3 linked regions of the Homo sapiens genome follow. The protein of the gene in region 1 interacts with the protein of each later gene in a pairwise test. Each region holds a gene or a part of one and is shown on either strand. Other genes may lie near its edges. The genes, in order: EIF2B1, EPM2A and C1orf50.

What was found.
Region 2: the proteins of EIF2B1 (region 1) and EPM2A interact in a two-hybrid assay, tested with the Homo sapiens proteins (one study listed by BioGRID).
Region 3: the proteins of EIF2B1 (region 1) and C1orf50 interact in binary tests that used the Homo sapiens proteins (3 or more experiments, as listed by UniProt).

Annotation. Positions count from the first base shown.
Region 1 is NC_000012.12:123,623,625-123,627,278, reverse strand, and holds part of EIF2B1 (translation initiation factor eIF2B subunit alpha), read left to right. Parts: intron 1-122; coding exon 123-235; intron 236-785; coding exon 786-854; intron 855-2,416; coding exon 2,417-2,492; intron 2,493-3,654.
Region 2 is NC_000006.12:145,687,001-145,690,654, reverse strand, and holds part of EPM2A (laforin), read left to right. Parts: intron 1-3,654. UniProt on the Homo sapiens protein: Plays an important role in preventing glycogen hyperphosphorylation and the formation of insoluble aggregates, via its activity as glycogen phosphatase, and by promoting the ubiquitination of proteins involved in glycogen metabolism via its interaction with the E3 ubiquitin ligase NHLRC1/malin.
Region 3 is NC_000001.11:42,773,595-42,777,248, forward strand, and holds part of C1orf50 (uncharacterized protein C1orf50), read left to right. Parts: coding exon 1-55; intron 56-1,142; coding exon 1,143-1,274; intron 1,275-1,614; coding exon 1,615-1,800; 3' UTR 1,801-3,654.

The sequences.
Region 1 (3,654 bases):
TGGTTGATTTGTGAGAAAGTGTACAGAGATGCTTAGGGTGTCGGGAACACGTGCCGCAGTGCAGAGGGTGTGAGTGAGCAGCAAGGAGCCTGCCCCTTTGACAAAGCTTTCTCGGTCCACAGACAATATTGACTCACGCCTACTCCAGAGTGGTCCTGAGAGTCCTGGAAGCAGCCGTGGCGGCCAAGAAGCGATTTAGTGTATACGTCACAGAGTCACAGCCTGATTTGTCAGGGCAAGTACCTTTCTGTTCAGTTATGTGCCCAGCCATAATTTTACAGAGCAAACTGCGGATTACAGTCCAACAGGATCAGAACCAGAATGTGCCCCCAGCTTGCCAGCAGTCAGCACTGCCTTTCATTGTACCTTTTCCTGCCTTTGGAAGAAAAATCACTGAATTTGCAGCAGGCCGCAGTATATGATCTAGGGGTTTCACTTAAGTAGTTAACTCCGTGGAAGAGCAGAGATTGTATTGATGAAGATTTTTATCAAGGAATAGGTAACTTATATCTCCCTCTCTCTAGACGATAATCAAAGCAAAACTTCCTCCTTTTTTCCTGAATTTACATCTCTTACCCAGAGTCTAAGAGTATAGTTTTCCAAAAATACTTCTTTCTAAAGAACTCAAATTCTTGTTTCCTTAGTCCAAAGTATTGGGATCTGCCCCTTAACCCATTAGTATTAATGTGAGTTTCAAGCAAACATCCACTGTCCACATTAGGTGACATACATCACTGTGGTACTGTCTTGTACTTTCTCTAACGTTCTCAAAATGTCATCTTCAGTAAGAAAATGGCCAAAGCCCTCTGCCACCTCAACGTCCCTGTCACTGTGGTGCTAGATGCTGCTGTCGGGTGAGTGCCCATCTTCCCCAGCCATAATCACCTCCCCCACCCCATGCTGGCTTACAGCAAGTTTTCAGATTGAAAGTTTGAGTCCCGTTCATAAAGCCACACCAGGTAGCGTCCTACTTCTTAATTAATAGCTGCCCTAAACCAGCAAGCTTGTTATGAGGTTGTGATAGCATACAAAGAAGACAGAGCTGTAGGATGTTGGGGAGAGTGGGAGTTGTGTCTATAGCTTTATGGCTGTAAGTGTTGAGTTTGTTGTTGTTGTTGTTTTTGTTTGTTTGTTTTTTGTTTTTTTGAGATGGAGTCTTGCCCTGTTGCCCAGGCTGGAGTGCAATGGCATGATCTTGGTTCACTGCAATCTCCACCTCCCAGGTTCAAGCGATTCTCCTGCCTCAGCCTCCTAAGTAGCTGGGATTACCGGCGCATGCCACCATGCCACGTTAATTCTTTTATATTTTTAGTAGAGATGGGGTTTCACCATGTTGGCCAGGCTGGTCTCGAACTCCTGAACTCAGGTGATCTGCCCGCCTTGGCCTCCCAAAGTGCTGGGATTACAGGCGTGAGCCACCACGCCCAGCCAGTGCAAATGCATTTTAAGAGCAAAGTACAAAGGTCAGTTGGGATCAGCAGAGGGTAATCAGGGCTCTGTATTTCTGTGAAGACCTGGCTGTCCTCAGTGGCATACTGGGATGCTTTGTCTCACCTAGAAGATGCAGCTTGTGTCGCAAAGCCAAGTCACATGTTCCTGGGATTGTCAGTGTATTTCCCAAGAAAAAACAAGAGTAGTGATCTCTTGGAATGAAAACAAGATAGATGATTAAGGAAATTAGGAATGTGTTCAAAAGTAAGGATTTTGAGGAATTCTACTAATTGCTCATTTTAAAGACTAAATTGGCCTTCATCCTACCAGAAAGATTCTTAAGGTTGGGCACAGTGGCTCATACCTGAGGCAGGTGGATCGCTAGAGTTCAGGAGTTGGAGACCAGCCTGGGCAATATGGCGAAACCCCATCTCTAGGGCATGGTGGCATATGCTGTGGTCCCAGCTACCTGGGAGGCTGAAATGGGAGGATCGCTTGAGCCTAAGAGGTAGAGGTTTGGGCTGAGATCATGCCACTGCACTCTAGCCTGGGCAACAGAGTGAGATCTGGTCTCAAAAAAAAAAAGAAAGATTTTTAAAACTGCATAACACTTTTGTCCAACTTCAGATCTCATCAGATTTTAAAATTTTGTTTGGTTTGTGCTGAAGTAGAAAAGAAAGTAGAGGATACCACACTTGGAAGGAAGACTGCTGTGTCAGGACATTCTTGCTTCACTTACACACATATGTACGTGTGCATGCGCCGGGCGGCAGTGTGAAGTGTATGTCTCATTGTAGGGTCATGACCAGAAAACACCCCTGGTAACAATGCCAGGGGTCTATCGCGTGTTAAGTGCGCTTTAAAAAAAACAGGTAGTTATGGGAGGAACTTACCTTGATAGAAATGGAATATTGATCTTTGCAGATGATGATGCTACTCGTTAGAGCCAAGAAAATAAAGCATGAAAAGCTTTTTTTCCCCTTAGCTACATCATGGAGAAAGCAGATCTTGTCATAGTTGGTGCTGAAGGAGTTGTTGAAAACGGAGGAATTATTAACAAGGTAAGAGCATCAGTTCTCCCCAGTTCCCTGCTCAAGACTTGGAGGTGTCTTGCTGACCTAGGACACCACAGCAGTGTTGATTATGGTTCCTTCTAATCCTGCTTCACTTCAGGACTTCATCATGGTATTGAGTTGTTGCCCATTTCCCGTAAGTCATAGCAATGGGCAGTCCAGTTTCAGTCAAATCTTTTTTAGATTGATCTACATAAATGAAGACAATGTAATTTGGTCAGGTGTGATGCCTTATACCTGTAATCCTAGCAATTTGAGAGGCCAGGGTGGGAGGATCACTTGAGGCCTTGAGTTCAAGACCAGCCTGGGCAACATAGTGAAACCCTGTCTCTACAAAAAATTAGAAAAATTAGCTGGGCGTGGTGGTGCTTGCCTGTAGTTCCAGCTGCCCAGGAAGCTGAGGCAGGAGTATCACGTGAGCCCAGGAATTTGAGGTTGCAGTAAGTTATGATCACACTACTGCATTCCAGCCTGGGCGATGGTGAGACCCTGTCTCAGTAAAAAAAAAAAAAAAAAAAGTGTAATTTATATTTATACAAAATTGGCTTGAATTGGAATTGGGGTTTGTCTGGTTTTTGCTTTATTTATGTGTATATGTATGTTTTATTTATGCATATATATACACACACATAATATATATACACAAATATTTTTAAAATATTATTTATATATTTACATATAAAGTATGTATGTATAAAATACGTGTATTTATATATAAATATTATATATATTTTAAAATAGAGACACATTCACTCTGTTGCCCAGGCTGTAGTGTAGTACAGTGATCATAGCTTACTGCAGTCTTGAACTCCTAGCCTGAAGCAATCTTTCCACTTCCCAAAGTGCTAGGATTACAGGCATGAGCCACTGTGGCCGGCCTGTCATTTGTTTTCATTTTAATTGAGCACATTTGACCTCAATTTATTACAATCTCTCTCTCCATTATTTAATTTAGAAAAGCTTCATGAAAGCTTTTTTTAGTTAAAATATATGTAACATAAGGCCGGGCGTAGTAGCTCACGCCTATAATCCCAGCACTTTGGGAGGCTGAGGCAGGTAGATCATCTGAGGTCAGGAGTTCGAGACCAGCCTGGCCAACATGGTGAAACCCCATATCTACTAAAAATACAAAAAATTAGCTGGGCATGGT
Region 2 (3,654 bases), on another chromosome or scaffold:
CGGCATCTTTTTTTTTTTCCATTTAGTTTGAGATCTTAGTGGTTATTGGTATAATGGGTAACATTCTATTGAAACCTAGACATTTTGGGTATTATGTAATGAGGTTAGCTCTTTTTTTTTTTTTTTTTTTTTTCTTTTGAGACGGAGTCTCGCTCTGTCGCCCAGGCCGGACTGCGGACTGCAGTGGCGCAATCTCGGCTCACTGCAAGCTCCGCTTCCCGGGTTCACGCCATTCTCCTGCCTCAGCCTCCCGAGTAGCTGGGACTACAGGCGCCCGCCACCGCACCCGGCTAATTTTTTGTATTTTTAGTAGAGACGGGGTTTCACCTTGTTAGCCAGGATGGTCTCGATCTCCTGACCTCATGATCCACCCGCCTCGGCCTCCCAAAGTGCTGGGATTACAGGCGTGAGCCACCGTGCCCGGCCTGAGGTTAGCTCTTATGCAAACCTTTGATTTTAACTGAATTCTTCTGACACCACTCCAGCAGAAGAATGGAGGTCCCACCTTATTACCCAGGTTCCTCACACTGTTTCCATTCATAACCAAACCAAACAGACTCCTCCCTGAGTGGGGTGGTAGTTCTAACTCTCCATTAGGCCTCCATTGATAGCTCCCTGGCTGAGACAGGGAGGAATGCCTTGTTACTGCTTCCTACATGGCATCCACTGATGGTCGGGTGGGAAGGAGGTGGAAATCTTGACTTTCCACTAGGTCACCTTTGTCACGATCTCAGTGGAAAGAAGGGGCACCTCGTTACTGCCAAATGGAGGTGGAAGTCCACCTTTCCACTTGGACTCCACTATATTGCCAACGATGATGCTGAAAGTTTCAGACCCCTACTCATCCTTCTCTGACACCATGATAGTGAGTGGGTTGAGGCACTGCAATACAGCTTGGCAAACAAAAGTGGAAGTGTACCCATGCTTGGCCTTTGCTGGCCTGAGTGGGTGTGGGGCCACATTTTTTCAGTGGGTTTGACTGGAGTAGTGTAGTTATTATCAAACAGATTTCTGTCTGGCTAGGCTTGTCTTTTCATTTGGCTAGAGAGAATGGACTTTTGTCATGTTTTCTTTTTCTGTCCTTGTGTTACCAGGTTGCTGGCTTCTTCAGATCTAAGTCTGGGATATATAAGGCAAAAAGAAAATGCAGGGAACTCAATACTTAGGTCTTTTCTTAGGTCTCAGTGTCCCTGGATAGTCTGTCTTCTTCTCTTTGTCTTTCAAAGTTATCTTATGTTTGTTTATTTATAATTTTCAGGGTTTTAAATTATACTTAGTGGGAGGACTAGGGAAAAGTACATTTATTCCATAGTTCTCCATGCAGAAATCTCCAAAACCAAAATTATTTTACTATTCATTTTTGCCATTTCATTAGGTGAAATTAAAAAGACAATAACCCATCCTCTAAAAGACATTTTAATTATTAGAACATATTTTGAATAACTCAGTTTACTATCCATGAAAGACTTTTAAAAATGTTGCCTAAAACATAAATGTGTAAAAATGAGTAATTAAAGAAATCACTCTAGGAATGAAGAATTCTTATGAAGATGATGACACATAAATAATTCTTCTTGACCATTGTAATTTATGAATATTTGATCTCTTCAACAATTATATTTTTAATAGGTAATAATTCAATTGTTGTAAGTCAATTATACTGACCAATGGGAGCCACAGATATTGTTTTATTTAACTAAAAAAGTAACACCCGCTCCTTGTAACTAATCCAATCAATTCAAAACAGTTGACTATGACAGTTCCCCTCCATCCAATTCCATTTCCTAGAAGTAACCATATCCAGTTTGTAGTCTATGTTTACACTTTCAGTCATGCTCTGCTGCTTCACTTAGTCACTCCTACTTTTCCTTTTCAGCTCCTCTATTCATCTTTTGTAAGTTTATCCTTCTCTCGCTGGCTGTTAAACATTGAAAAACTTTCAGACTTTGTTCTAGAACTTTTTTCCTTATTAATATTGTTTTTCTTTGTGACTCATCTATGTTCCTATTTCAATTACCATTTACACTCAAATTACTCATATATTTATTTTTTTAGTTCAGATTTCTGGTCTTAATGTCAAATGAGTAACTCCAGCTCTCTTTTGAGGACTCCTTTTGGATATCTAAAGAGCACTCCAAACCCAACATTGCCAGAACTAGATAGATGATCTTTCCTTACAGCCTCTTTCAGATTTTGCATCTCAGTGAATAGTGCCACTGTATATTGAATTATTTTCACTAGAAGCTTAAGAGGCATTGTTAATCCCCTTTCATCTTCACCTTCCTTTTCCAATTAATCACCAAGTCCTGTGGCCTTTCCCTCTTGAATCTGCATAATCCTTTCAAAGTCTGTGACCAAGCTTCATCATAAACTACCTAGGCCAATATAGTAGTTTCTTAAATGGACTCTCTGCTTCTATCTGATTGTTCTTGAATTATTTTTTTACTCTGTAGCCAGAGAGGTATCCTTAAAATAAAATCTGGTTATGTTACATGCCTGCTTAGAATATTTCAAATTTTTAGTTGCTCTTATGATAAATATCTGAGTTCTTAACATGACCTAGCACAGTACCTGTCTCAATAAATATCTGTAGAAGAATGAAAAAAAACTTATATGGTTTACAGTATTTTCTATTAAAATAGTATTACTGTACGCATGTATCTCTGTGTGCATCAGAAATTCTTTTTTCTTAGTAATATTTCTGTTGGATATGTTTCTAGAAGTGAGGTTGCTAGTGTAGTTTGGTTTTTATCTATTAAAAATGAAGGTTAATAGAGATGTGGTGCAGCACCTTGTAGTCGTCGAGAAAAAAAATCCATTAAGAGAAAAAAGAGGAGACTGATCTAGGAAGATCAGTAATGGTTTATTAAGAGAGTCATCCTGTACCTTCTGTCTGATGGAAGGAGTTATATCTCAAAGAAACATCAAATAATTTAAGGATTTTTTGAGAGCTTACGCCAAGCAAATTTAGGTTAAATATTTTGTAAGACAGAACAAAGAGAAAAGAACAAATGAATCACATTTTTGTATTCATAACAAATGTGATTTATTTCTGTAAACCACTCATGCATTTAGTTTGCTTACATGTCTTTCTTACAGTACATTATACTTAGGTAGTATAAAGAGAGGCATGATTTGAAATGGGATGATAAAAAGGTAGTAAAAATAATGTATGAATTATAATTTTTGTAGAAATCAAGGTTTACTAGTATGTAAGACCATTTGAGCTGCTATAAACAAAACACCATATATTGGTTAGCTTATGAACAATAGAAATTTATTGCTTACAATTCTGGAGGCTGGGGGGTCTAAGATTGAGGCATACCAGATTCAGTGATTGGTGAGGGCTCACTTACTGGTTCATAGATGGCGACGACTTGCTGTGTTCTCACATGGTGGAACAGAGCAAGGGGTTTCTTTCACCCCTCTTTTATAAGGGAGCTAATCACATTTGTGAGGGTTCTTCTTCATGACCTAATCATCTCCTAAAGGCCCCAGCTTCTAATACCAACACCTTGGGTGTTAGGATTTCAACATATAAATTTTGGGGGGACAAAAACATTCATACCATAGCAACTAGTGTAGTTGATACTGGGCAATCGTGAAATAGGCAAATAATATTTTTAGAGATGTGTGTCTGCTTCCTTTGATCCA
Region 3 (3,654 bases), on another chromosome or scaffold:
CAAGCTGACAGTCATAGCTGAGCAAATCCAACATTTGCAAGAACAAGCCAGGAAGGTAAGGAATGACTGTTAGACAGGCTTTCATTTTCTTTATTTAGTTCTCAGGATTGGCTGAACTTGTTTATAATCGTTGTGACTTTTTATGTCTTTAATACCTCCTAGAAATGTAGAGGTGTTGAGTAAAATAGAAGGAATAAGCTTAAGAGGTTAAGTATAAGTTTTTGTTTGTCTGTTTGTTTGTTTTTGAGACAGAGGTTTGCTCTTGTTGCCCAGGCTGGAGTGCAGTGGCATGGTCTCAGCTCACTGCAGCCTCTGCCTCCCGGGTTCAAGCGATTCTCCTGTCTCAGCCTCCCAAGTAGCTGGGATTACAGGTGCCCGCCACCACACCCTGCTAACTTTTGTATTTTTAGTAGAGATGGGGTTTTGCCATGTTGGCCAGGCCTGTCTTGAACTCCTGACCTCAGGTGATCTGCCTGCCTCAGCCTCCCTTGTTTTGTTTTTTCCAGGAGAAGGTTTCATGAGGTAAAGCATTTAACAGGGGATTATGTTTTCATTTATAAAAGAAATGTACTTAGCACAGAAAAATAGGAAAGAAGCTTAAAAATTACCCAGGGTCATTAATGCTCAACATTTTGAAATATCTTTTTTTTTGAGATAGGGTATCACTGTATCACACAGGCTGGACTGCAGTGGTGTAGTCTCAGCTCACTGCAACCTCTGCCCCCTGGGCTCAAGTGATCCTCTAGCCTCAGCCTCCCAAGTAGTTGGGAGTACAGGCATATGCCACCACACCTGGCTAATTTTTTGTATTTTTAGTAGAGACAGGGTTTTGCCATGTTGCCCAAGCTGGTCTCCTGAACTCAAGTGATCCACCTGCCATGGCCTTCCAAAGTGCTAGGATTACAGGCATGAATCACTGTGCCTGGCTTGAAATATAATTTTTCTAAAGGCATTTTTACAGCATAGCAGCATAGTCTAATTTTTGTTTCTTCAGAATAATCTGGATCTCAGAAGTGATTCATTGCTATGGGGGAGCAAGATCCTAAGCACTGAATGGTTTCCAAATTTTAATTGGGATGATCACCAAATGTGGGTGCCTGTTATCTCCAATACCTAATTTGTTACATATCTGTGATTCATAGGTACTGGAAGATGCTCACAGAGATGCCAACCTGCACCATGTAGCTTGTAATATAGTGAAAAAACCTGGCAACATTTACTATCTCTATAAACGGGAGAGTGGTCAGCAGTATTTTTCCATCATTTCTCCAAAGGTAAGAACATACATTGTTTGCCCAAAAATCTACTCCAGCCTCTGAGAAATTCTTGGTATATGTGTGAAAATGTAGACATGTGGATTGGTATATGGTTTCTTAGAAAATTGGGGGTGATGTGAGCCCAGACATGACTCTAAAAAATATACCTGTGCTTAAATTATTTCACTCATTTTCTTCATTAAGGGAGGGATCTGATGTGTAAGGTAACTGCGTTCCAAAGGTTGTTCTGACTAGTATGAAGTGAAAAGCCAAAAAAGAGATTGTGGCATGATTAGGAAATGAGCTCAGTTTGTTTACAACCCACGCTGATGGGAACTGCCTCCTTTGCCTTCTCTAGGAATGGGGGACAAGTTGTCCACATGACTTCCTTGGTGCCTACAAACTACAGCATGACTTGTCCTGGACTCCGTATGAGGACATTGAGAAGCAAGATGCTAAAATCAGCATGATGGACACGTTGCTAAGCCAGTCAGTGGCCCTGCCTCCGTGCACTGAACCCAACTTCCAGGGACTGACTCACTGAGAGTGGGCTTTGACAAACAGCTCTCACAGGACCTGGCTGTCAACCTCCTTGTTGCCCCCACTGTTGCCTTGAGAATTGAAGACATGTAGGTGACTCACAAACTTCTTGGAAAGAGACCCTGTGTGAATGTAAATGCTGTCATTATGACTTTTAATTGGGATGGGAATAATCATTGAGACAGAGTCACTGTCTTTCGGGATCCTCTTTGGACCACAGATACCCAAGTCAGTCAGTTTCAGAGTATTGGCCAGTGTACTTTCCTTCTTCCTCTCCATCACTTCTTCCCTTAAGTTAAAGTGTTAGAGAAGACCTTCTTCCCATAAAAAGGTTGGTGGATCGTTTTCCAGAGAGAACTGTTTTCAGTCTTTTATATATATATATATATATATATAACTGGTAGTATTTAACATTGGGGTTGAGGCTGTCTCACAGTTGGTGCAACTCCAGTTTAAAATTCATCTGGGAACGAGAATGTTGAGTAATGGAGGGTGATTTAAAAAACAACAACAACAACAAAAAAAAAAACACTTGGCTTGGCTGGACCAGAGAGTGTGTGATTCTGGGATTTCTGTGCTGTTGATGAGGTTTGTCTTGCCCCTTTTGCTCTCTCTGCCTTGCTAGAGTGACAGAATCTGAGGCAGCAAAGGCCAGGTTTGGGGAGAGTCAACTTTGAAACTCACAAATTTTAGACTTGGAAGAGACATTGGATGCTGCCACTAATCATTATAGAGTCCACTGTGTAGTCTCCCAAGTTGGAAATCCCAGGCTCAGCCACCTGCAGCAGAACAAACCCATTTAAATGGCTACTTAACACTGTGGAAGAGAGTAAGGCAGTAGAGTGAGAAGCAAGAAAAACAGCCAAATTGTTGACTGTGAGTTAACTCAGATTGAAATCCATTTTGACCAGAATTATTCAAGAACTTAACAGGGTTTTGGCAAAATTACTGTAGTTCTTATTCTGACTAGGCTCTTGTAGGACTCTACCTTCTTTCCTATCTGTTTGGTGGAATTAGCTAAGTTTATGGATTATTTCGCATGGCTATAATCTATTGCAATATGCTGTAAAAGGAGGGAGAGATGTGTACTTGAACTGACAATTGGCCAAATTTCTCTCTGGGAATGATGTTCCTGATGCTGATCTGTTTGGTAATACCCTCCCCGGGCCGCCCCCCGATTCATGGTCTTTCCTCATAAACTGCATTTCTTGTGAGCTGTAAGAGGTCTACCTAAGGCCTAGCACAGGATGGGGCTAGAATCTAACAAACTCACTCCGATGATACTTGGTTGCTCGGTTCACATGGGAATGCTCTTTGGACTCAGCTGCAGAGGTCTTTTGCTCAGGTGCTGCAGAGCCGGATGGAAGAGACATTAGTGGTAGAGTAGTGGATTCTGACTACAGAAAGTTTCCCAGGTTTTCAGAAGGTTCTGACCTGCATGATGATGACACATTTTGAATAGGTGCTTTATTAGTTACAGATAAACAAATTACTGCAAACTTAATGGTTTAAAGCAACACCTATTTATTTCAGAGCTTACAGGTTAGGAGTTCAGGCACCATTTCATTGAGTCCTCTGCTTCACAGTTTCTCTGAAACCCTGGAAGGCTGAAATCAAGTTATTGGTCAGGGCTGTTCTTATCTGAAGGCCTGAGTGGGGAAGGATCTGCTTCCAAGCTCACTTAAATTGTTAGCAGAATTTCTTTTCTTTCCTTTCTTTTTTTTTGAGACAGAGTCTCGCTGTATTGCCAGGCCTGAGTACAGTGGCTCAATCTCAGCTTACCGCAACCTCCGCCTCCTGGTTCAAGTGATTCTCCTGCCTCAGCCTCCTCAGTAGCTGAGATTACAGGCGCACGCCA